Homo sapiens: one gene and its partner. Each later gene encodes a partner of the first gene's protein in a complex. Links are inferred from orthologs where the notes say so. Each region holds a gene or a part of one and is shown on either strand. Other genes may lie near its edges. The genes, in order: LATS1 and WWC1.

The links.
Region 2: the proteins of LATS1 (region 1) and WWC1 are in contact, whole or in part, in a crystal structure (PDB 6J68), measured with the Mus musculus proteins. The link is inferred for Homo sapiens from one-to-one orthologs. Residues at the interface, in NP_034820.1 of Mus musculus: Ala546, Glu547, Ala548, Pro549, Ser550, Tyr551, Gly553, Pro554, Pro555, Pro556, Pro557, Tyr558, Leu562, Leu563; in NP_740749.1 of Mus musculus: Asp17, Tyr23, Ile25, Asp26, His27, Arg30, Thr31, Thr32, Ser33, Trp34, Asp64, Val67, Tyr70, Ile72, Asp73, His74, Lys77, Thr78, Thr79, Gln80, Ile81.

Annotation. Positions count from the first base shown.
Region 1 is NC_000006.12:149,712,714-149,725,230, forward strand, and holds the start of LATS1 (serine/threonine-protein kinase LATS1), read right to left. Parts: upstream 5,389-12,517; 5' UTR 5,136-5,388; exon of another isoform or gene 4,891-5,135; intron 3,713-4,890; exon of another isoform or gene 3,494-3,712; intron 1-3,493. UniProt on the Homo sapiens protein: Negative regulator of YAP1 in the Hippo signaling pathway that plays a pivotal role in organ size control and tumor suppression by restricting proliferation and promoting apoptosis.
Region 2 is NC_000005.10:168,284,960-168,297,335, reverse strand, and holds the start of WWC1 (protein KIBRA), read right to left. Parts: upstream 5,692-12,376; 5' UTR 5,184-5,691; coding exon 5,065-5,183; intron 4,631-5,064; exon of another isoform or gene 1,052-4,630; intron 1-1,051. UniProt on the Homo sapiens protein: Regulator of the Hippo signaling pathway, also known as the Salvador-Warts-Hippo (SWH) pathway.

The DNA of each region.
Region 1 (12,517 bases):
CCGGGTGCAGTGGCTCATGCCTGTAATTCCAAAACTTTTGGAGGCTGAGGTGGGCGGATCTCTTGAGCCCAGGTGTTTGAGACTAGCCTGGGAAACAAAGTGAGACCCTAACTCTACAAAAAATAGAAAAAATCAGCCAATTATGTTGGTGTGCACCTGCAGTCCCAGCTACTGGAGAGACTGAGGTGGGTGGATCAATTGAGCCCAGGAGGTCGAGGCTGCAGTGAGCTGTGATTGTGCCACTACACTCCAGCCCGGGCATCAGAGCAAAACTCTGTCCCAGAAAAAATAAATAAATAAATAAATTGAGTATATCTTAAGATCAACCCTTGGGCCCCCAACTTCTATGAGCAATAAGCTAGCTGAGAAAGATGTGTACCTTCCAAAGAGAGAATACTCACCCAACACACACTTCACAGGTGGCCGAGTATGATAATGAAAACAATGGATGAGAGTTCCTTCCAAATAAATCAAGGTCCAATCTCCCCTCCAAAGCAGAGAAGTTCTAGAGTAGCAGTCATTGCACATGCCTAACTTAACCATACATAAAAGTCGAAATCTCTGTTACCTCAATTGTATTATTTTCTTTTTTTTTTTTTGAGACAGAGTCTCCCTCTGTTGCCCAGGCTGGAGTGCAATGGTGCCATCTCGGCTCACTGCAACCTCTGCCTCCCGGGTTCAAGCAATTCTTCTGCCTCAGCCTCCCAAGTAGCTGGGATTACAGGAGCCCACCACCACACCCGGCTAATTTTTTGTATTTTTAGTAGAGACGGGGTTTCTCCATGTTGCCTAGGCTGGTCTCGAATGCCTGACCTCGGGTGATCCACCCGCCTTGGCCTCTCAAAGTGCTGCGATTACAGGTGTGAGCCACCATACCCGGACAATTGTAATATTTTCATTGGCAGCACCATATATGATGCTCAAAATGTTTTTTCTTTTTTTCTGTTTTGTTTTTGTTTTTTTGAGAAGGAGTTTCTCTCTTGTTGCCCAGGTTGGAGTGCAATGGCGTGATCTCAGCTGACTGCAACCTCTGCCTCCCGGGTTCAAGCAATTCTCCTGCCTCAGCCTCCCAAGTAGCTGGAATTACAGGCATGTGCCACCATGTGTGGCTAATTTTTGTATTTTTAGTAGAGATGGGGTTTCACCATGTTGGCCAGGGTGGTCTTGAACTCCTAACCTCAGGTGATCCACCTGCCTCGGCCTCCCGAAGTGCTGGGATTATATAGGCATGAACCACTGCGCACGGCCTCTTTTTTTCTTTTATCATTATTACTTTTTTTTTTTTGTGAGACTGTCTCACTCAGGCTGGAGTGCAGTGTCGTATTCTGGCTCACTGCAACCTCTGCTTTCCAAGTTCAAGTGATTCTCATGCCTCAGCCTCCGGAGTAGCTGGGACTACAGGTACCCACCACCACACCTGGCTAATTTTTGTATTTTTAGTAGAGACAGGGGTTTGCCACGTTGGCCAGGTTGGTCTTGAACTCCTGACCTCATGTGATCCACACACCTCAGCCTCCCAAAGTGCTGGGATTACAAGCATGAGCTACCACGCCCAGCTATTATTATTTTTGTAAATACAGATGGAGATCTTGCTAGGTTGCCCAGGCTGGTCTCAAACTCCTGAATTCAAGTGTTCCTCCTGCCTCAGCCTCCCAAAATACTGGGATGATACCATGCCTGGTCCACAAAATGTTCTGAAAGATTCCATTGTGACATAGTATTGTGCACTCAAACTGTCATTCAATAGACAATGCAATTAAAGGCATAAGTAATTATTAAATTCAAGCAAGATCACAGAATTTTCAAAGGTAAGACAGACTCAAAAGTCTGCCAAAACTTTTGGAGTTATCTTCAGAAGAAGCTGTTTAATTTCCAGCAATAGGTAATTCAATTAAGAAGAAGAAAAAAAAACTAAGTAAGCAAAAATGAAAGGCAAGCAAAACCCCAGTATTCTTCAATATACCTTAAAATTATACACACAATCATAAAGACAATATAGGTTAAGATAATTAACTAGCATTATGAAAAGCAGCCTGTTATCATGATGTTGCATTAACTAACCGAAGTAATTCAGAAGGATCCTAGATTCTGAATGTGAATAAGGCTGAGACTCAAACTTTATTGTGACAGACGAAAATGGTATACAATTGAATGAATAAATGTATGCTATTATTAATAAAAGCTTTATGTTTACTTTCTTCCTGCTAAAAAATTGCTACTAAATAGATGGCTTATCTTAGATTTAGTGGTATTTCAGAATTGATAAAGTATGATAGTTCAACCTTATTCCTTTAAATACCGATATTGAATTTCATCATGTAGATGTACTATTTTTTATTTATTTATTTATTATTTCTTTATTTCTTTATTTATTTTTGAGACAGAGTCTCACTGTCGCAGGCTGGAGTGCCGTGGTGCCATCTCAGCTCACTGCAACCTCCGTCTCTCGGGTTCAAGTGATTCTCCTGCCTCAGCCTTACAAGTAGCTGGGACTACAGACCCGCGCTACCACACCGAGCTAATTTTTGTATTTTTAGTAGAGATGGGGTTTCACCATGTTGGCCAGGCTGGTCTCGAACTCCAGACCTCAGGTAATCCGCCCTCCTTGGCCTCCCAAAGTGCTGGTTACAGGCGTGAGCCACTGCGCCCGGCTAGATGTACTATTACTTATAAATCCCTGACTGATGGACATTTAGGTTGTTCCTCATTTTTTTGCTAATGTAAAATAATACTGCAAACTGGTAACTTCAATTATACTGGTAATATTCTTGTTCTGAGTTCAGGTGGTAAGTTCATGGATGTTCATTTTATTATGCCTCATAGTTTAATAAAATGAACATATGTATAATATACATATAGCATATTCCTTGCACATAACGAAATTAGTTAATAAAAAAATTGCTGCAATAAAAATTCTTGTGCACACATTGCTGAGCATTTTTCTTAAAATAAATTCCCAGAAGTGGAATTGCTGGATCAAAGAGAATACATATTTAAAATTCTGATACTTATTGTCAGAATGCCTTCTAGAAAGTTATACTAATTTTATAATCCCCACAACAAGGTATGGTTAATACTGGCATTACTAAATCTCAACAATCTTTGCTGCTATGACATGTGAAAATTCAAATTATTACTAGGCAAAAAGAATTTTTAAAATAATTCTTCAAAGCAAAACTGCTTACCTTTTTAACCCACACTACGATGGGGCCAGATTCGTCTTAATAAACAATTCTGATCATGTCACCTACCTACCCCATAACTTTCAATGACTTTAATCTCATGGTTAAAGTAAGAGCTCTGGAATCAAACTGCCTGGGTATGACAGATCGCCATTTTTTTTTTTTTAAAGTTCAGACCCTCATCAAAAATACAAACATCAACAAACAAGTATCATTGATTAGTTTGTCCAACTTAGGAAAAAAAAAATGATACCATTACATAAGATTTCAAAGTGTTAATTTGGGTTGAATTAAGTTTATCAGAAAGGTACCCTGGCTGGGTGCAGTAGTGCACCTGTAGTCCCAGCTACTTGAGAGGCTGTGGTGGGAGGATTGCTCGAGTCCAGGAGTTGGAATCCAGCGCAGGCAACATAGCGAGTTCCCATCTTTAAAGGAAACTGCATACTGACATTTTCTTCAGTTCACTTTCTAATAATTGTCAGATCAAAAGTGAAAGCAACGCTGTATCTTCATGCTGAAAAATGATTGCTGTTCCTACTTAGCGAAAATGTTATTCAATGACTAAATAACTTTTGTGATGTATAACAATCTCCCATTGATGTAAATAAAACATCTAAAATAACCAAATAACCAGGGTTAGAACAGTTCCAACACTATTTATATAGAACAAGGACTTGCAATAAAAACAAAACAAAAATAAAAACGACCTACACAATGAAAGCCAGATATTATACATTAAAAATGTAGTAGAAGTATTTTTTGGTGAGCAGCAAGGCATATTCCATCAATATTTAGGCATAGAATGTGCCATTCCAAGCATGGACCATGATCTAGTTTCTTGCAGTAGCAGCCAATTGGACTAACACAATGCTACTTCTTTTACTGTTCAATCAAATTCCTCCACTGCCTTAAGGAATCAACTACCCCATTTTACCGTCAGAGATAATAAGCTTTGTTTTCGTAGCACAGAACATTCACTCCAATTATAATGTCCTACCTTTTCTTCCTCATGGAGGAAATTTGATAAAAAATTAAGTTTATCAGAAACTTCTGATAAACTGATAAACTGATAAATTTATTAACCTTCAATAAATAATTCATAAAGTTCAAACAAGTTTCATGATCGCTAACATTCAAATCCATTTCCAAAACTGGAGTTATACAATATTACTTCTGTGCATGAGATTATACTTATTGTTCACTAGATTTATGAATAACTTCTGGAGGATGATACATGTTTTAAAAGCCGTATTAACATATGAGTTGACAAACATTAAATTTTGTTCCCTTAGAAATTGACAGAGAAGTCAGAATGGGGATAAATCAAGTCATCTGAGGCATTCATTGAGCTACAAGCTATTTCAGGTTATAAAAAACACTGTTCCCTTAATTGTCGTTCCTTCATTTGCTGTATTTATATACACACTCCTACTCCATAAAGACCTCTCCATCTCTCCCACCTCTTCCAACTATGAACAGTAACCTAAAATCACACTGAACTAGACGTAAGAGACTCCCAGGATTTCTCTAAGGTATACCCAGGATCAAGGCCCTCTGGGATCCAAAGAACTGTAGCTCTTTTACTGCAATTTTCCTTCAGAACCACCTTTCCCGTTCCTTCCCTCCTGGACACCGCCGACTCGCGTGTTGGGGGTGGGGTGGGAGACACGCCGCCAGAAAGACAGGCTCTACCCAGCCAAACCTGCACCTCCGAGGCCGAAAAGCCTGGGGCTCTTCCTGCAGCACCGGGCGCGGCCAACCCTCGCTTCCCCAGGGCAGGGCTCAGCTCGGGTCAATGCAACCAGCCAAGTCAGGCCCGGAGCGGGCCGGCTCTGCCCGCCAGTCCAAACCTCTGGACCCTCGCCAGCGGGGATGGGCGTGGGCCCCGGCGGCCACCGCCCCGCCAACTCGAGCACTGGAGGAGCGCACCCGCTACGCCAGCCCCGGACCTACCTGGAGGGGAGAGCAGAGCTCCTGGACAGCGGCCACGGGCCTGAGGGCGGACGCTGAGGCGGCCAGAGTCCGTCCCAGCAACCCCAAGTATCCCTGGTGGGGCAGAGCGGGGAGACGAACGGGGGGGCTGCCGCGGGCCAGCGCGGCCCGTCCCAGGGGTCGTGAGGACCTGGCTCTCCCCTTAACACCAGGCCACCGCCGCCGCCGCCGCCATTTTGCCTTCCACTCAGTGTCGCCGCCGCCGCACTCCGCTGCAGGTTTCCCGGATGTGGGCATTTCCCGGCGTCGCTTGCGCGGGGGCCGAGGACTGGGGGCTTTTGCCCGCCCGGCTGCTGCGAGGGAGCGCGCAGCCTGCGGCCTCCGGGCTTCGTTGCGTCGCCCGCAGCTCTGATCGTTCGTGAGCGTCGCCCCACGTCGCTCCCGCCTGCCCCTGCCCATACGACTCGCCCGCGCCCGTGGGTTAAGGCTGTCTCCCGCCCAGCCTACTTGGTTGATTCAATCCTTTTCCCCATTGATCTATTTCTCTGGACCGAGTAGGGATGTGCATTTCACGGAGCTACGTTCTCAGAAGGGAACAACTGAGTTGCTCTGGGAAACCTCCCTGTGGACCTCAGAATTCCAGATTTTTGGCGCTTTGAAATAAAATTTTATTCTTGCTTAGCGTTCTTTCCCCGAACAAGCCGGTGAGCTTCCAGCATCTGTATTTTCTGAATCCGGCAGATAAGAAATGCTTGAGCCAGGACCGATTGATTAGCAGCGGTTTAGAGATCTTATCTGTCAACCGCATCCGTAGAAGGAGATCGTTATTGCCATAATTGGAATACCGGTGACGGTGTGACAAGAGGTTTTACTTCTGGTTAAGCTGAATGTAAAGTGTGGGATGGGATCGTTGGGTTTGATGTATAAGGTACGGTCCACCCTTTGTGAAGATCGCCTTTGCCAGTTTTTCCTCTAGGAAATATACAGTTAGTGTTTTCAAGTACCTTCTTTCGTAATTTTTCTACTACAGAGTACAAAAAAATTAAAGACATCTTTTTCTGACGTTAAAGTAATAACTGGCTACTTACTGTATCTAGAAATCCAAATGTGAAAACCCGTTAAAAGATTATGTTCCGGACGGGCGCGGTGTCTCACGCCTGTAATCCCAGCACTTTGGGAGGCCGAGGCGGGCGGATCACGAGGTCAGGAGATCGAGAACATCCTGCCTAACACGGTGAAACCCCGTCTCTGCTAAAAAATCCAGAAAAATTTGCCCGGCGTGGTGGCGGGCGCCTGTAGTCCTAGCTACTCGGGAGGCTGAGGCAGGAGAATGGCAGGAACCCGGGAGGCGGAGCTTGCATTGAGCCGAGATCGCGCCACCGCACTCCAGCCTGGACGACAGAGCGAGACTCCGTCTCAAAAAAAAAAAAAAAAAAAAAAAGATTATGTTCCAAGAACATTTGGTTGAAAGTCTATTTTCTACAAGCACAGAGTTTGTAGAAGGCAATGTGACCCAAGGTGGGTCACTAAAGAGCCCCAGGGCTTACTTTCTTCAACGTAAGGGTGCCCCATAAAGACCTTTTCAGCCCTAAAATTATATGAATTATAGGAATCTAATATGTCCACAGGTCTGCTTGCCCTATCCAAAAGGATTATGCATCTGGAAGGGCAGACTGCCCCCAGAATCCTGTCACGTCTGTCATCAACCCATGGTACTTAAGCTCCTCAATGCTCTCTAAACCTAAAGGAAAGTATCTCCACAAACTCTAGTCTTTGGGGAAATTCCTAGATAATTCAGGGAGCTGAGTAAATTGCTCTGTGTAGGACTAGGAGGCTTACTCCTGTGAAGTAGGGCGAGAGATAAAAGAGCAGGGAAAGCAGAGGTGGAATGATCAGGAAGAGAACTGACGAGATGCAAAGCATTGGGGACTGTAGGTGCGGAGAGTGATGATGGTTGGGGAAATACTTACTGTGGGTGCTGGATGTGTGGGAATGGTGATACCTGCCATCACATTTGCAGGTTTTTATATTATTGTGATGGAAGATCTTGGTCCAGTTTCAGCCTACTCAATTCTTCAGTGCTTCATGGAAATGGGGCTTGTTTTTAGCAATAGATGTAGAATCCGATTTCATGCTTGTGTGACCTTAGAAAGGAATTAGGGGGCAGTGTACATGGAAGAAGTCTGGAGACCAGTGTGGCCCTGAGAACATAAACCCTTCCAGAAATTCATACGATCTTAGGGGAAGACACCAGACTATGTGCCACCCACTCTTAAGGAATGGGGAGTTGTGCTCCATCTTCTTGAAAGTGGAGAATCCAGCCAGACTCTGTCCCCAAAAAATAAATAAATAAAATAAATAAAGTGGAGAATTCAAATAAATTATTTGACATTCTGCAGATTTATCCCTTCTCCTTTATTTATTCAAACATTTATTGGCCGGGTGTGGTGGCTCACACCTATAATCCTAGCACTTTGGGAGGCCGAGGCAGGCGGATCACTTGAGGTCAGGAGTTCCAGACCAGTCTGGCCAACATGGTGAAACCTCGTCTCTACTAAAAATAAAAAAAATTGGCTGGGCGTGGTGGGCGCATGCCTATAGTCCCAGCTACTTGGGAGGCTGAGGCAGGAGAATCGCTTGAACTCAGGAGGTGGAGGTTGCAGTGAGCCGAGACTGTGCTACTGCACTCTAGTCTGGGTGACAGAGCAAGACTGTCTTACAAAAAAAACAAAAAGCAAAAACATAAACAAAACAAAAACTCGTTATGTCAGTATGGCCTCATGGATATTTATTTTATGCTTTGGGTATTTATTTTGTTGCTCAAGTTGTTTCAGTTTTGGCCACTGGAGCTCTTTCAGTTGGCGTGTGTGTGTGTGTGTGTGTGTGTGTGTGTGTGTGTTTTAAAGAACTTTCTGCCCAGTTTGGTGGCTCACCCCTTTAATCCCAGCACTTTTTAATCCCAGTACTTCTGGAGGCTGAGGCAGGAGGATCACTTGGGCCCAAGAGTTCAAGACCAGCCTGGGTAACATAGCAAGACCTCATCTCTATAAATCAGCCAGGTGTGGTGGTACACAACTGTAGTCCCAGCTACTCAGGAGGCTGAGGCAGAAGGATCGCCTGAGCTCAGGAGGCTGAGGCTGCAGTGAGCCGAGATCTAGCCACTGCACTCCAGCCTGGGTGACAAAGCAAGACCTCACCTAAAAAAAAAAAAAAAAAAAAAAAAAAGAACTTTCTTCTTTTCTGGCAGTACATTATGTTCCAAAATCTTTTTTTTTTTTTTTTTTTTTTTTTTTAGATGGGGTCTCACTGTGTCACCCTGGTTGAAGTGCAGTGACATGATTATGGCTCACTGCAGCCTCAACCCCCGGGACTCAGGTGATGCCTCAGCATCCAAGTAACTTGGGATTACAGGCGCAGGCCACCATGTCCAACTTTTTTTTTTTTTGAGACCAAGTTTCTCTTGTTGCCCAGGCTGGAGTACAGTGGCGCCATCTCTGCTCACCGCAACCTCCGCCTGCTGGGTTCAAGCAATTCTTCTGCCTCAGCCTCCCTGAGAAGCTGGGATTACAGGCATGCGCCACCATGCCTGGCTAATTTTGTATTTTTAGTAGAGAAGGGGTTTCTCCATGTTGGTCAAGCTGGTCTTGAACTCCCGACCTCAGATGATCTGCCCATCTCGGCCTCCCAAAGTGCTGGCATTACAGGCGTGAGCCACCGCGCCTGGCACGCCTAATTTTTGTATTTTTTGTCGAGACCAGGTCTCCCTATGTCACCCAGGCTGGCCTTGAACTCCTGAGCTCAAGCGATCCGCCCGCCTTGGCCTCCCAAAGTGCGGGATTACAAGCTTGAGCTGCCGCGCCCAGTTCTCCAAGATATCTTGTATATTTCTTGCCCCGGTTCAGGGATCACCATTCCTCCAAGGATCCCTGGTTCCTTTTATTGGAATATGGTATAAGAAACCAAATCTGGGTGCTAGGTGTATGCCTTGCTACTGGTGTATCATGGATTCTAAGACTTCTCTGGCTAAGATTTTTTAGTTTATTCTACCCCTATAGAGGGGTAAAAACTCTTCTGATTTTTTGCAGCTACAAATTTTTTAAAAAATACTTTAATTAAATTTAAATTAATGTAATTTAGTTTTGAGTCATGCTGTGTCACCCAGGCTAGAATGCAATGGTGCAATCTCGGCTCACTCACTGCACCTCTGCCTCCCAGGCTCAAGCAATCCTCCTGGCTCAGCCTCCCAAGTAGCTGGGATTACAGGCATGTGCCAATATGCCTGGCTAATTTTCTTTTTTTTTTTTTTTAGTAGAGATGGGGTTTCACCATGTTGGTCAGGCTGGTCTCGAACTTCCCACCCCAGGTGATCCGCCTGCCTCCGCCTCCCAAAGTGCTGGAATTACAGGTGTGAGCCACCGTGCCCAGCCCCATTTTTTCTTTTTTTGAGATGGAGTCTTGCTGTGTTGCCAGGCTGGAGTGCAGTGGCACGATCTCCGCTCACTGCAACCTCTGCCTCCTGGGTTCAAGCAATTCTCCTGCCTCAGCCTCCTGAGTAGCTGGGACTACAGGTGCCTGCCACCAGGCCAGGCTAATTTTTGTGTTTTTAGTAGAGACGGGGTTTCACCATGTTGGTCTTGAACACCTGATCTCAGGTGATCCACCCCCCTTGGCCTCCCAAAGTGCTGGGATTACAGGCGTGAGCCACTGCACCTGGCCAGACCTTCTATTAGTCTGAGCTAGATACTATTGACACCATAAGCTTAACTAAAGGTTCAATATAAACTATATACTGTTGAATTTAATATGCTTCTTGGACAAGAGTCTAGAGTGGATTATTAAAAGGATGTTTCCACAATACAATTAAATAAAAGTACTATTCACAAAGGACCAGGAATTTTTCAATTATGCCAAATTTTTGATAGTATAACTACAGCACATTTTCTCACAATAACCTTGGAAATAAGATAAATGGAATGAAATGTCAATAAATTAGGTTGTTTTATAAATATTTCAGTAACTGTAGCCAAATACCAGAGATTCATGTTTCATTGATAATTGAGAAGACTCCAGCAGTGGGCCTAAAAACTTCATTTCATTTAACATCTTTCTGGCTGGGCATGGTGGCTCTTGCCTGTAATCCTAGCACTTCGGGAGGCCAAGGCAAGTAGATTGCTTGAGCCCAGGAGTTCAAGACCAGCCTGGGCAATATAGTGAAACACCATCTCAATAAAAATTGCAAAAATTAGTCAGGCTTGGTGGTACATGCCTGCAGTCCCAGATACTTGGGAGACCGAGGTGGAAGGATCACTTGGGCCCAGGATATCGAGGCTGTAGTGAGCTGGGGATCACACCACTGCACTCCAGCCTGGGTGACAGAGTGAAATCCTGTCTCAAACATCTTTCTTAATCAATGGGATGAAAGTGGAGAGAGCACGCTGGGCTAATTATGGAGAAAATAATAGCTTCTACAAAAGATTCAAAGAAAATAGTTAGTCCTTTCCTATATTGAAATGAAATTTTTCTTAGAACAAGAAAGGCCCATATTAAGGATTAAAAACCATTTGTATTAACTTCCGAATATAGGAAGTGTGGCTTAGGAGTATCACATGTGAACACTTCAGAAAGCTGACACAGCATTACAAAGGAATATCATTCCTATTAACAGGATGGCAAGATTTCTGTCATAATCACCAAGGTAGACAATATATGAAAAAGTGTTTATCTTGGAAGTCACACTTAAAAGAAGGCCTCTGGCCGAGCACGGTGGCTCATGCCTATAATCCCAGCACTTTCGGAGGTGGAGGAGGGTGGATCACTTGAGGTCAGGAGTTCAAGACCAGCCTGGCCAACATGGTGAAACCCTGTCTCTACTAAAAATACAAAAAATTAGCTGGGCGCACACCTGTAATCCCTGCTACTCGGGAGGCTGAAACAGGAGAATTGCTTGAACCTGGGAGGCAGAGGTTGCAGTGAGCTGAGATCGTGCCATTGCACTCCTGCCTGGGCGACAGAGCGAGACTTAAAGTCTCAAAAAAAAAAAAAAAGGCCTTTGACAAAGAGCAGTAATTTTTAAAGGGAAAACAAGATTGTGAAAACAAGGTCAATTAACAGTGACTCATTGCTTACTATGGTTCAGATACTGTTAAACACTGTTACACGAAGACATGGGCGCTGTTCTTGATCTTGTGGCCCAGTAGGGGGAGACAGGCTCCTTAACACACTGCTTTGCGCACAATTTAAGTTCTGCACAATGGGCTTTTGAAGCAGAGTGCAATTTAGTCCGGATTGCTGGAGGCCAATAAAAGCTGTCTGGAGAAAATGACACCTAGAAGGAGTCTTGAAGGATAAGAAGGATTTAGCCAAAAATGGAAAGAAAGAGAAGGAAACCTTCACTGGAGAGACTATAATAATCAATTTTGAATATTTGAATATGTGATGAGAGGAATTTTGTGTGTGTGGCTCCCGAGATAAGACAGATAGAAGCAAATTTCAGTTCAGTATATGAAAATTCATTTATTTAGTGAAACCCTGACATTAAAGCGTCCCAACACAAAGCAGATTCGAACATAACAACTGGTGATTGGCTCATCTCACAGGCTCACATCATCAGTGTGTTAACATACAATAGGACTGTACCCTTTTACAGGATTGAGTGTTTTGGATCCCACTCACACACTAAAACCCTGCCATAAAGTTGTATCAATTAGGGCTGTTCAAATGTGAAACTGTATTGGAAAATGGGAAACTTTATCTCCTTATATATGTATATTTTTTGAGATGGCGTTTTGCTCTTTTGCCCAGGCTGGAGTGAAGTGGCACGATCTTGGGTCACTGCAACCTCTGCCTCCCGGGTTTGAGCAATTCTCCTGCCTCAGCCTCCCAAGTAGCTGGGATTATAGATGCCTGCCACCACGCCCGGTTAATTTTTTTTTTGCATTTTTAGTGGAGACGGGGTTTCGCCATGTTGGCCAGGCTGATCTCGAACTCTTGACCTCAGGTGCTTCACCCACCTCGGCCTCCCAAAGTGCTAGCATTACAGGCGTGAGCCACCATGCCTGGCCACCATATGTTTTTAAGTATAGGTTGGATGATAATTTGTTGGGAATACCATAGAAGGGATGATGAAATTTAGGCTGGAGATGATCACCAAGGTACTTTCTATCTCTAAGATCCTGCAACCCTTGAAAGACACTCTATTTGACAGTTTCATGAATAAAGGCAGTGACAATGAACAAATTCATAAATTACGGTGTTACATTACATAAAGCTTAGTTTCTTATTAAAATTGGCAAAACTTGTCAATTGGCATGAAATGTAATGCTGTTAAAATATACTTTCTCTTATGGTTACAAATACTAAGTGGCTCACGCCTGTAATCCCAGCACTTTGGGAGGCCGAGGCGG
Region 2 (12,376 bases), on another chromosome or scaffold:
TTTCATCAGTGAAATGAGAGGCCTGGATTTCACGAACAGAAAGGTCCACTCCAGCTGCAAAATTGGGTAGATATGCAGCATCCATTTGATGCTGCTGTTTCACAGGTACGTTCTAGGAAAAGTTAAAGGAACTGGCATTCCTCAGTGTCCCCTGCATGTCAGACTTCAGGCTTGCTGCCCTACCTACCTTCACTTACTTATCACCCATAACTACCCTTGATGGTTGATGGACATCTTTCCATTCATTAGAAGGCAAACGCAAGGTTCAGGGACAATATGTCAATTACCAAGGTAACTCAGGTAGCAAGTGGCAGATCCAAGATTCCAGGAGCCAAAGACTCACTTATCTACATTTGCCCTCTAGGTGCCCATGACCTGACCACACCAGAATGGTCACAGGTAAGTGAAATCATGCCTGTTTTGGCTCCATTTCCCAAGGCCAAATTCCTTAGGCACTGGAGCAGTGGTCTTGATTCTGCAGCTAACTCAGCAGGAAGTAAAATGAGGCAGTGGTTAGAAATGTGTGTTCTGGTGTGAGCCCGCCTAGTATTCACATCACAGCTCCACAAAGGTTGAGGGGCTTTACCAAGCCTCCCTGAGCATTGGGTAGTTCAGGTGGGTAATAATTGTACCTAGTCCCAGGGTTGTTAGGAGGATTTAAAGAGATAACCTATGTAAAGCTCTCAGCAGACTGCCTGAATATAGTAAATACCCAATCATTATTTGCTACCTAGCTAAACAGGAGGCCTTTCCATGGTGACAAGCAATTTCCAAGCTTATCTATGGCAGGGGTTATGAACCTGGGGTCCAGGAGGTCCCTGAAATTATGTGCAAAAACCTTTTCTCTAGGAAGAGTTCTGAACCTTTATCAGTCTCATAAGGGTCTGTGACCTGACAGAGGTTTAGACTTTTTGACTGCTGTAGACCTGACTTCCTACCATATCAATTATTTCTGAAATAACAGGGTTAGCAAAAGATCCTCAAGTCATGGGAGAAGTTGCTGGATCCTCTCAGCATGGCCTCTCCAGCCATGTGTGCCTCCGGTACTTACCATACAGACCCAGAAACTGCCCAGAATTCCCAGGTGGTTCCTATGAGAAGGTCTGAATACAAATCGCACAACAAGAAGGAATCAGGCTGCAGGAACCTTCTCTGGGAGGGCCAGCCCCAAAGATCTATTCTTCCTCCGAGAACAATCGGTGCATTTGTTTTGCATACCACGAAGTGAAATACACAGGACGCTGGCCCCTTCGCTAGAGCTCACAAAAGCACCCAGAGTTACTCCGCAAAAGGAGCACGGCTCCAAGGTGCTGTTCAGACCTGATCCACAGCACCTGATTCCCGAAGGGCCTGTCACCTTCCCAGGCTGGCCTTGACTCAGGAAAAGCCTGTGGTGCTGCTGGAGCCTTTGGCCCAGTGGGCAGGACCCAAGCTGCCCACTGGACCCTCTCCGGTTGTTGGGACAACCATCCTCAGGAATTTCGGCCTCCCAGTCTTCCCCTGGGTGAGAAGGGGAGAGAGTTGGCAAGGCTGGCTGCTTGGCTGCTCTTCCAACCCCCTGGTGAAAGGGGAAGCTGAAAACTGGATTCCCTACCCCCAGCAGCTCCTGGCCGGCCAGCACACAAAACAGCTCAGCCCCAGAGGGAGGAATGTGCCAAGACATTCTTTAGGGTTGGTAACCAGAGACGCTATTTTGTCCTTGGTGGCTAAGAAATCACTTTTCTGACTGAAGGACCATTTGACTTACTTCTTTTAAATTCAGGGGAATGGGTGGGCATCTCCATGATTCAGGTAAGGAAAAATCCAAGGCAAATAAACACACACACACACACACACACACACACACACACACGGAGTAGAAATTTTTAGTGCAATTTTTTGTCTCACAGCATTAATTAATTGCAGGGATATAACTACCTTGGCAGAATTTTTTCTCCCCAACCCACCACCCCCCGGAATAAGTTTGGCTCTTTTCAGCTTTGTTAAATTTCTTCTTCCTTTTTCTCATAGCCCATCCCTGTTCCCCCTTCTCCTCTCATGGAGTCTGGAGAGGTAAGAGCGGCAGAAGGGTTTGAAATAATATTTAAGAGCTGGCAGGCCCTTGAAGACCATCTAACCAACCCACTTCTCAAGCACTCAAACCTCAGAGAGGTCAAGTGATTTGCCCAAGGCCACACAGACAGAACTAAAAGGCAAAAATGGGGTATGCCGGAGGGAAATTCCAGAAAACCACAAGTGGCTATCCTCCAATTAGCACTTTTCCAAAACATACAAAGCTGGACCACAATAGTGACCCCCAGAGTTGACATGAGACCCCCTCAGGACCCCAAGTTCAGGGGCCCAATACCACCCCAGTCCAGGTGGGATGACAAGGAGGTACAGAGATGAAGTTTATAAACCAGTGACCCAAGGCCAAGCGTGGTGGCTCACGCCTGTAATCCTAGCACTTTGGGAGGCTGAGGTGGGCGGATTGCCTGAGCTCAGGAGTTCAAGACTAGCCTGGGCAACACAGTGAAACCCCATCTCTACTAAAATACAAAAAATTGGCTGGATGTGGTGGCGTGCACCTGTAGTCCCAGCTACTCGGGAGGTTGAGGCAGGAGAATCGCTTGAACCCAGGAGGCAGACTTGCAGTGAGCCAAGATCGCACCACTGGACTCCAGCCTGGGCGACAGAGCGAGACTCTGTCTCCAAAAAACAAAAACAAATAAACAAAAAAACCAAAAGCAAACAAAAAAACCAATGACACAAGATGAAGAAGGTGAGCTGCTCACCTAAGTGCCACTATGTTTCTGCCGCCTCTCCATGGCTTGCCAATCTGCTTAAAAACAAAGGCTGGGCAGGTGAGGTGCTGTGGCCTTAGGCTGGCCACAGTACCTAGCTAAAATATACTAACCCTGGTTTTTTGTTTTTTTTGTTTGCCTATCTTTTTTGTTTCCCCTGTATGACAATAGATATAACTAGTTTCCCATTTGTGAAAATGGTACACATATTTTTAAAGTGAGTTGATCTAAAGTCAAGGAGTAAGTAAGCAATAGCACAGGTGGATATAGCAAAAAAAAATCATGGAGGTGGTCCATGTAACACTAAAATTTGGGAGATTGTGCTCCAGCCAATCAGTTCTTCATAGAAGCTACTTACTTACCCTTTTCCAAGGGTAAAGAATTACTGTTGAGAGGGGCCTCCTATTGCTGTATTAGAAGTCCCCAGATGCATGATTATCAGTGTTGGCAGGGGCGGTCCTTTCCCTCCAACAGGACGTCCACCTGCTAACAGCACACAGGCCTCCGTAAACTACAGGGACCTAAATTGGGGCAGGTCACATATGTTTGAACTTGTGTCTGTTCTGAGAAAAGGACAAGAGAAAAGGTGCTGCCAAGTTCACCAACACAGTAGCAGAGCTGGCAACTGACCCGAGTAAGGGTGGGGAAGCAGTGTGTCAGGGTGACAAGTTTGCAGGTTAGAACTTCAGAGCTGGTGAAGAACTGGTACGCAGAATGGCAGAAAAATCAAAATACTTGAGCAAATCACACCTCTGGGCTTCAAATTTTCTCTTATGTTTCAAATGGGAGTTGGGCGCTGATGTACGTCCCTTCCAAGTTTTAAGCATCCCAATATTCCCTTCCAAGCAAACTTTTTAAATTCAGGGAAATGGTGGGCTCCCCCATCTGACAAACAGGGAAACTGAGGCTCAGAGGTTGAAGCAGCTTGCCTAAGAGATGCTCTCTAGCACTAAATATTTACCTTCCAGATTACATTCATGAGACATTCAGCATGGTGCTGAGTGTAGAGGAGGCATCCAGGAAGCGCTGAATGAACGAATGAATGAATGAATGAAAGTAAGTGCTCCCAGAAACTACCGAGAATCTCAACTCTCATTTTCTTTCCGCTTATATTCTTTTTTTGACCCACATCTTGCTACATACACTTCTGGGACACCTCCACCCCCACCACACAAGATGAAGAGTCCAAGAAATTCACCTTGGTTGCTTTACAGGGACCTGACCCCCAAGGTCACAGACAAGGTTTAAAGTCCGCATTCCCCAAGACACTCTGCCCACAGACCGTGTCAACAACATCGTGGTCCGGGGACTCTAGGACATACATGGAGAGGGTGAATGTATGTGTGTGTGTGCAGCATGTGAGCAAAGAAATGCCAAACAACCAGGAGAAAGTCTGGAGAGGTAAGAGCCACACCGAGCTATCTCAGGCTCCATCTGCCTCTGCACATTATCTCAACCTACAGCGGCCTGGTACCCACCAAGGTCAGGTCCCGCTGGTGCAGGGCTGAGGAGCCTCGCCGCCCCCTTCCCCGATCAGGGAAGAAAGAGAGGAGAAAGAGGCGAGGGGCAAGGCTTTCCGGGAGGCCTCTCACCTCCATCTCCATCCTAACAGCTTCCAAGTTGCTGCCAGATTCCTGGATAACCAGTCTCCCTCATCTGCCCTCCCCCGCTTCTTCACTTCCTCCCCACCCTCGGGTTCCAGGGCCCCCTGGCTGCCCCTGTGCTGTTCTCAGCAGCTTCCAAGGCACCTGTCAAAAAGCACACCTCAGGTTGCCTTCCTCTGCGCCGAGTGCCCTCTCTCCAGTGGTCTCCCACGGAATCCTGGGGTCTTGACCACCCCCTCTAACCGGACACTTCCCCATCCCCATCCGCCCACCCCCCACGCTGGGTGGAAGCCTCCCCGGGAAGACCCGGCTTCACCCGGCTAGGTCGCTCCCCCAACCCCCGCCCCCGCCCGACCTCTCTTCCTAAAGGGGGCGGGCGGGGCTAGAGCTTAAGGTCAAAACTCCGGGCAGGTGCCGGCTGGGGCCTAAGTCCTCCAACTGGGGATGGCGGTGGGGCAGCCTGGGCCAGCTCCCCGGCAGGCGCCTCCTCTCGGTGGCCCACTGAGGCGGGAGCAGCGCTCCAGAAGGTTGGGGGGAGCAGGGGGTGGCGAACTGAAGAGAGCTCAAGAGGCACGCAGAGCTCCCCTGCCCCCTCCCAGTCCCGGCCGGCGGCTCCAGGGGCAGGTGGGGGCCCAGGCGGGGGTGTGGGGGCACGGAGGAGGGTTCCAGGGTCCTACCTGTCCCGCGGGTCGATCCAGCTGGTGGTGCGGTTCGTGTGGTCTATGTAGTAGACCTTGCCGTCGAAGTCGCGCGCCTCCTCCCAGCCCTCCGGCAGGGGCAGCTCCGGCCGGGGCATCTTCCCAAGCGCTGCCGGCGCTCCCCCATGCAGCTCCCGGCCGCAGCGGGGGCTCAGCGGCTCCAGCCGGCCGCTCTTAGCCCGGGCGGCCGCCGAGGCACCATGATCCGGGGGGTGGCGCCCGCAGATGGGGGGCCCTAGTAGGGGCCGGCCGGGGTGGCGCCGCTGTCCATGCGGCCCTGCAGCCCCGACCCGGCGCCGCCCGCTCCTCCCGCCGCCGGCCTCTCACGCTGCCATGTGCGTCCGCAGCGGCGCGGTGCGAGCCCGGGTGCGCGCCCAGCCGGCCGGGCAGAGCGAGCCGAGCGCCGCCGCCGCCGCCGTCTGCCCTCCTCCGCCGCGCGGCGCGCTGCGCCCTCCACGCCGCCGCTGCCGCTGCCGCCTCCCTCCTCCCTGCAGCCGGGTGCCGTCCCTCCTCTCCGCTCCACCGCTCTGAGCTCGCCGGGTTTGTGACTTCTGCCTCCGCCAGGTGCGGCTCGGGCGGTGCAGGTAACCGCGCTGCCCCGGAAACGGGAGGCGGAGCGCCGGGCGCCTGGGTTCCCGGGTCCCCTCCCCGCGCGCAGCGCCTCGAGGGCGGGTCCTAGGGCCCGAGACGCGCCCCCTCGTGGGACAGTCCCAGCCGCCGGCCACCCTTACGCTGCCCCTGCCAGGGGAAGGAGAGACCGCCCCTCACCTGCGTCCCAGACCTAGGGGGCTGGGCCAAAAACCGCTCTGCCTGTACTTAAAACGCTCCTGTCTCTCTCCACCCGGAGTAGCCAGGCTCTCGGCACAGGTGGCCCCAAATCTTAAAAACTCCCTGCTTTTCTGTGGTGTAGAATCAGGAGTCAGGCAAGAAGTGGTTAAATGGAAACATTCTTGCGAATTGGGAAACATAAGTTTTCCAGGATCTCTGGTCCCTTCCCCCAACACAGGCACCATCTGTCTCCTTCTATTCAACTCTCCCTACGACGTTTCGCCCACCCTCCACCCTTCCCCACCATTTGGAAATGTAGCTGGCTCCCCTCAGGGTCCCTAAAATTAGGAGCGCTGTGGATCCGCTTTCCTGGGAGGACTTCCAGAGGGTGTCAGGGAAAACACTTTGTAAAAGTAATAGTAATGCCATTGTTATTGTTAGCTAAATTGAGGACTTACTTGTGACAGGCTGTGGCTAGCAGCTTCACAGGCTTTCTTTCCTGTGATACTTTGAGGTAGGTGTGTTATGGATTTGGGAGAAGTGGGGCTATGAAAAAGAAGAAAGTAAGCAAAGCAAAATTCCATCTTGAAAAATGTTCAAGAGAATAAAACAATCAGAGACACAATGTTTCTTGAGAAATTAAAAATGTAGAATTAGTGGGTGCGGTGGCTCACGCCTGTAATCCCAGCACTTTGGGAGGGTGAGGCAGACAGATTACCTGAGGTCAGGATTTCAGACCAGCCTGGCCAACATAGTGAACCCCATCTCTACTAAAAAATAATAATAATAAATTAGCTGGGCGTGGTGGTGCACGCCCGTAGTCCCAGCTACTCGGGAGGCTGAGGCATGAGAATCACTTCAACCTGGGAGGTGGAGGTTGCAGTGAGCCAAGATCGCACCACTGCACTCCAGCCTGGGCAACAAAGCGAGACTCTGTCTCAAATAAATAAATAAATAAATTTAAAATGTAGCATTAAATACAAAAAGCAAGCTAGCATGATTGAGTGAATGATCAACTGGCTGTTCACTTCCCCATCTCCTCTTACATCTGTGTACTGAGTGGGAATTTAACCCTTTTTTGCCCTCGGCATATGGCAGGAAGCTGGACTGGTCGAATGAAGCCCAGTTGGGTGTCTTCTCTTGCCTGAGCCCCACGGTCTTCCAGAAGAACCAGCACCCTGTGCTGTATGGACCAGGGTGTTGCTGAGCCAGAGAGGGAATCATGTTTGTGGTCTCATCTCCTCTTGACAGAAAAGACCCACCAGAGTGAGCCTCGCCTCCAAATGCCTTCTTCATAGTTAATTCCTTCCCTGAGGCCAGGCCTCGGGGCTCAGTGCTTGGCCCTCCTTCATTCCATAAATACCAGGCACCAGAGTCCAGGGACACCAGCCTCAGACTGGCCCTCAACACCCAAAAGTTGGAATTCCCCATTCCTTTATGGGGGAATTCCCACAGCCCTCTACACTTCCTCTGTTTGGGTCAAGCCTTTACTACATAAAAACCCACTATTGATTAGAGCAGTAGCCCCAAAGCAAAGCCAACCTGGTGCTAGGTTCTTTGAATACATGATCTCAATCTTCATAACAACCCTCTGGCATAGGAAAGTCTATTTATTATACCCATTTTACAGATGAGGCTCCAAGATGCTTTGTTGTTGGCCTGGGATACAGAGCTCATAAGACAGACTAGGTCTGACTCTAGTGCAGTGTTCTCAGTTATTAACCTATACTTTCTTTTTTTCTTTTTTTGAGATGGAGTCTCCCCCCATCCCCCAGGCTGGAGTGCAGTGGCATGATCTCGGCTCACTACAACCTCTGCCTCCCAGATTCAAGCAATTCTCCTGCCTCAGCTTCCAGAGTAGCTGGGATTACAGGCCTGCGCCACCACGCCCAGCTAATTTTTGTATTTTTCAGTAGAGCTGGAGTTTCACCATATTGGCCAGGCTGGTCTCGAACTCCTGACCTCAGGTGATCCGCCCACCTCAGCCTCCCAAAGTGCTGGGCTTACAGACATGAGCCACCTTGCCTGGCTGACTTTCTTTCTTTCTTTCTTTTTATTTTTGAGACGGAGTCTCGCTCTGTCACCCAGATTGGAGACTTTCTTTCTTTTTTAAATCACTCTGCAGCCTCAGAACTTCCCCATGGTTGGGATGTGGAACATGACTGATACTGACAAATGTTCATCTCTGTTGATGTTTGCTTCATAGTTTTTTGGTTGAGAAGCAAGAGCTCTAGAATCAGGCTGTTTGGGTCCCAAGCCCACCCGGTTTTCTAGCTGTGTGACCTTGGGCAGCTTGCTTCACTGAAGTCTCAGTCTTTGATTTGAAAAAAAATCACATAACAATATGGACTCCTTTGGGCTTGTGGTTAGGGCAAAGCAGGAGGAGAAATGTGAGGGCTTGGCACTCAGCAGCACGCCTTCATCTCAGGGGCTGTGGTGCGGTGCATTCGGAGCACCGTGCCTGGCAGCAGACACACCTCTATGAAATGTGGACCATTTGAAGTATTTTCTGTTCAAAACACAAATCCACGTCCTTTCCCCTTCTGAAAATTATGCCTGCTTGCTTGCAACAGTCCTCCTAATTGCTGATTTTTTTTTTTTTGGCCTTATTTTTCAACCAAGCCTTTTTACTGGTTGGCATTGATTGTGAAGAGAAAACACCTTTTAGACTGCCAAGTCCCACTTTCGTTTTAGTCCAGCCACCCAAACCCTGGCATTTTCCAAATGGCTTGCTTCTTTGGACCTTTTGACCTGGCCTGGGAAGCAAGAAAGAGAGACCAGAGCAGGAATTGACTCCTGAATTAAGGCCTAGGTCTGTTCGCTCTTTTTACCTCCCATCCACCCCCAACGAAAGAATCCCAGGTTATCTCGCAGAAGCGGCAAGCAGGGTGAGGTAATAAAACAGATGACTGCCTGCCCCATGTGATGGCGCGTGAATCATCCCGGACATTCTGCGAGGCTGAGGGCAAACGTGAAAGAGATTAAAGGTAAAACCGGCTCAGCCACATGATAGGCTGAATTGGACGTTACTCTACAGGTGACTGAACTGCAGGAATCCGAACTGAAGACAAGAAGCCCAGCCCTCTCCTGGCCACCCTCCTGGGGCTGCGTCTGGCTGCCCGCGTGTGGAGTTGAAGGAGACAGGCTTGGGCAGTGTTGGGCAGTGCAGAAGTGACCACAGGCCAAGCCTTTCTAATGACAAAGGCCACATCCCGGTGGCCCAGAGGAATCACCTGAGCCTGAGACAGGCTGTCTTGTTTTTAAAAACGATGCGCACTTGAACCCTTTTCTCCACTGCAACTGCAGGGAAGAAAGGCCGTTATCCACACGTGTTTTAGAGTGTTTCAGAGAGCCAGAGTCACATATTCCATGAAGATGGTAAAGAGGAGAAATTAAATATAAAACAAAGGAACAGATATGTTAGCAAGTCCAGTTTCCTGTTCGCATCTGCATTCTTCAGGGGAAACTGAGGCTTTGAGAACCTCTGCTGAGATTTTGCTTCCTGCTCCATGACTCTACCTCCCTACCTCATGCCGTCCCTCCCACACATCCTGGGGAATGCACAGTTATGTTCTATGATGGAGCCAATAATGTCCCCTTTCTTGAGTCATGCATTATTTGAGGTTCATAAATGTACTGTGGACTCTTTTTTTCCAATGATGGGAAAACACGTCCTAAGCCAGAGAAAATGAGGGTGGAAGAAACCTTGGTAACACGAGAGCCGAGGCAGAAGAGATGGTTTTTTATTTACCTCTCGGTCCTCCGTGCTTAATTCAGTGCTGGGAAATCAACTGAAACAAGTCTTGCACAGCCTACTCATTTTACAAACAGAGAAATGGAGTTTGTGTGAATAATGATTTACTGCCCTAGTTCCTGCTGGTTCCATTTCATAGATGAGCAAACTGAGATTCAGAGAGGCAAAGTGACTTTTCTGTAGTCATGTAGATATCAACTTAGCTGCTTCTAGTGAGTTTTTGCTTCTGGACTCCCAGTGTGGGCTTTAGAGTGCCTGTGAAGGAGAGATTTCAGGGCCATGGTCTGGTTGGGAAAGGAGGTGGGGTGGCCAGGAGACTCTCCTTAAACTCCTACTTATGTTTGGGTTGTGCGTCTATTTGGAGTGGATGGAGGAGGCCATGGAGGTTGATGAGGGCATGCTAAAACTGGTCACAGCTGAGCTGACAATGAGAGGGCAGAGTTGAGGTGGGGTTCTCAATTCTAAGAGGAGGAGATAGTGCCCTGATCCCCCATTGCCTGCCCAGTGCTGTCCACAAGACCCCCCAAGGGGATTGGTGTAGGGGATTTCACAGGCTCAGCGGTCTCTGTGGGAAGAGGGGTACTTTTCTCCCTTTGTTGCCTGTCTTTCCTCCCCACTTGTTTCCTTGCTGGTTCTTTTTATTTATTTATTTATTTATTTATTTATTTATTTATTTATTATTTTTTTTTTGAGACAGAGTGTCACTCTGTTGCCCAGGCTAGAGTGCAGTGGCGCAATCTCGGCTCACTGCAACCTCTGCCTCCTTGGTTCAAGCAATTCTCCTGCCTCAGCCTCCTGAGTAGCTGGGATTACAGGTGCCCGCCACCATGCCTAGCTAATTTTTGTTATTTTTAGTAGAGTCGAGGTTTCGCCATGTTGGCCAGGCTGGTCTCAAACTCTTAACTGAGCTGATTTCTCCTATGTGAGAGGCTGAGGCTGCCAGGAGAGGTTGAGTCCATCCTATTTCTGACTCTCTCATCAAGGGATTCTCTGGGGACTGGGAGCTGTTGTGTCTTTCACTGAAGAGGAAATGAATTATGCACCAAAGGAGGAGGTGGAGATGAAATCTCAGTTTCAAGGGTGGGGGTGTGGAGAGGAGAGAGCAAGCCCATGAGCAGAGGGCGGGAGTTCTTGCAAAGCAGTGCTTTCCTCTGTTCCTCTACTCAACAGCAGAGGCGGAGCCCTGGTGGGAGACGGGGGTGGGGGTACAAGTGCAGTCACCAGCAGACTGGCTGAAAGAAGCCTCTCTCGGTATTTATAGAGCTTGCATCGCCATGGTACCCAGGCGCTTAAATTAAACTCTAGCCCAACTGCTTGGAGATGCATGGAATGAAATGCACTTTACCTGTCCACTGTACATGGTCTCACACCTCATTCTCAGAACTTCACCACTGCAAAGATAAGCAAATGGAGTGAATTTTACAAATCACCTGGCAAGAAGGGTATAGGGTTGGGTTTATACAACAACCTGTCTCAACAGGGTGGCTGGGCAGAGTAGTAGAAAATACATGGGCAGAAAAAGCAATCCAGATCTGAAACTTGGCTCTGCATCTTGGTCAGTGTGTGACTGTCGGCATGAGACTGCATCTCTCTGAGCCTCAGTTTCCTCACCTGTAAAATGAGATCACCAACAAGAAAAATGAGAGCAACAATGCTGCCTCACTATTGACTTGTGACAACTATATGAAATGATACAAGTGAAGTGCTTTGCTCAGCTTCTGAAATGCAGAAGCTCTTTTAAATATAGGTCTCCTTCCCTGTTCAGCTGTTATTCATTTATTCCACAAGAACTTTTTTGTCTGCCTATTGTCTGCCAGACAAGTATTGAGACATAAGGGTGATTTCTGGTCCCGTGGAGCTTACAGTTTAGTAAAGTAACATGTAATAAACAAGTCAACACATGAAAAAGTAATTGCAAGTTGTTGTTAATAATATGAAGGAAGGAGCGTGCTGTGAAGAATTTGGTAGGGTGTGGATTGGTTGAGAATCTACTTTAGACTGGACCAGAGGAGAAGGCCATTCTCAGGAGGTAACACTTAAGCAGAAACCTCAAGCAGCCCACAATGCGAAGAACCAAAGAACATGCATTGCAGGGAAAGAGAATAGCAGGAGCAAAAGCCCTGAAGACAGTATGTTCAACACACCCAGGGCGCTGTTCCCATTCTGCTGAAAACCACAGGAGGCTGCTCTTGTTGGGGGCACCCAAGCTAGAAGGTGGTAGCCCTAAAATGCCACAAGATTCTCTGCCCCCAAACCCATGGCTTCCTGTACCACCATCTCCACCCTGATCCAGGTGAACAGAGTCCCTGCTCCCCAGCCCTGGCTACTCAGCTGCAGTTGCCTCAAAGGTCCAATAAAGCCTAGTAAAGGTTGGATATTTTGCTACTTTGTCTTTAGTTTTCAGATATTTAAATATGTGTCTTGGCATGGATTTCTTTGGGTTTATCTCATAGTTGGGTGGGTGGTGGGGCTCAGCTTCTTTAATCTGTAGTTTCATGCTTCCTTTCAAAGCTGGGATGTGTTTGGCCATTATTTCCTTGAATCCTTTAACAATTGCACCCTTTTGTCCTCTCTTCTGGGGCTCTCATCTTCGTTATAGTCCCATGGGATCCCGGGGCTCTGTTCATTTGTTTTCAGTCTGTTTTCTCTCCATCGTTTAGACTGGGTAATTTTGATTGTTCTGTCTTCCAGTTCATGGATTCTCTTCCCTCTGTCCCCTCTATTCTGCTCTTGAGCCCATCCATGGAGCTGTTTATTTCATTTGTTGTA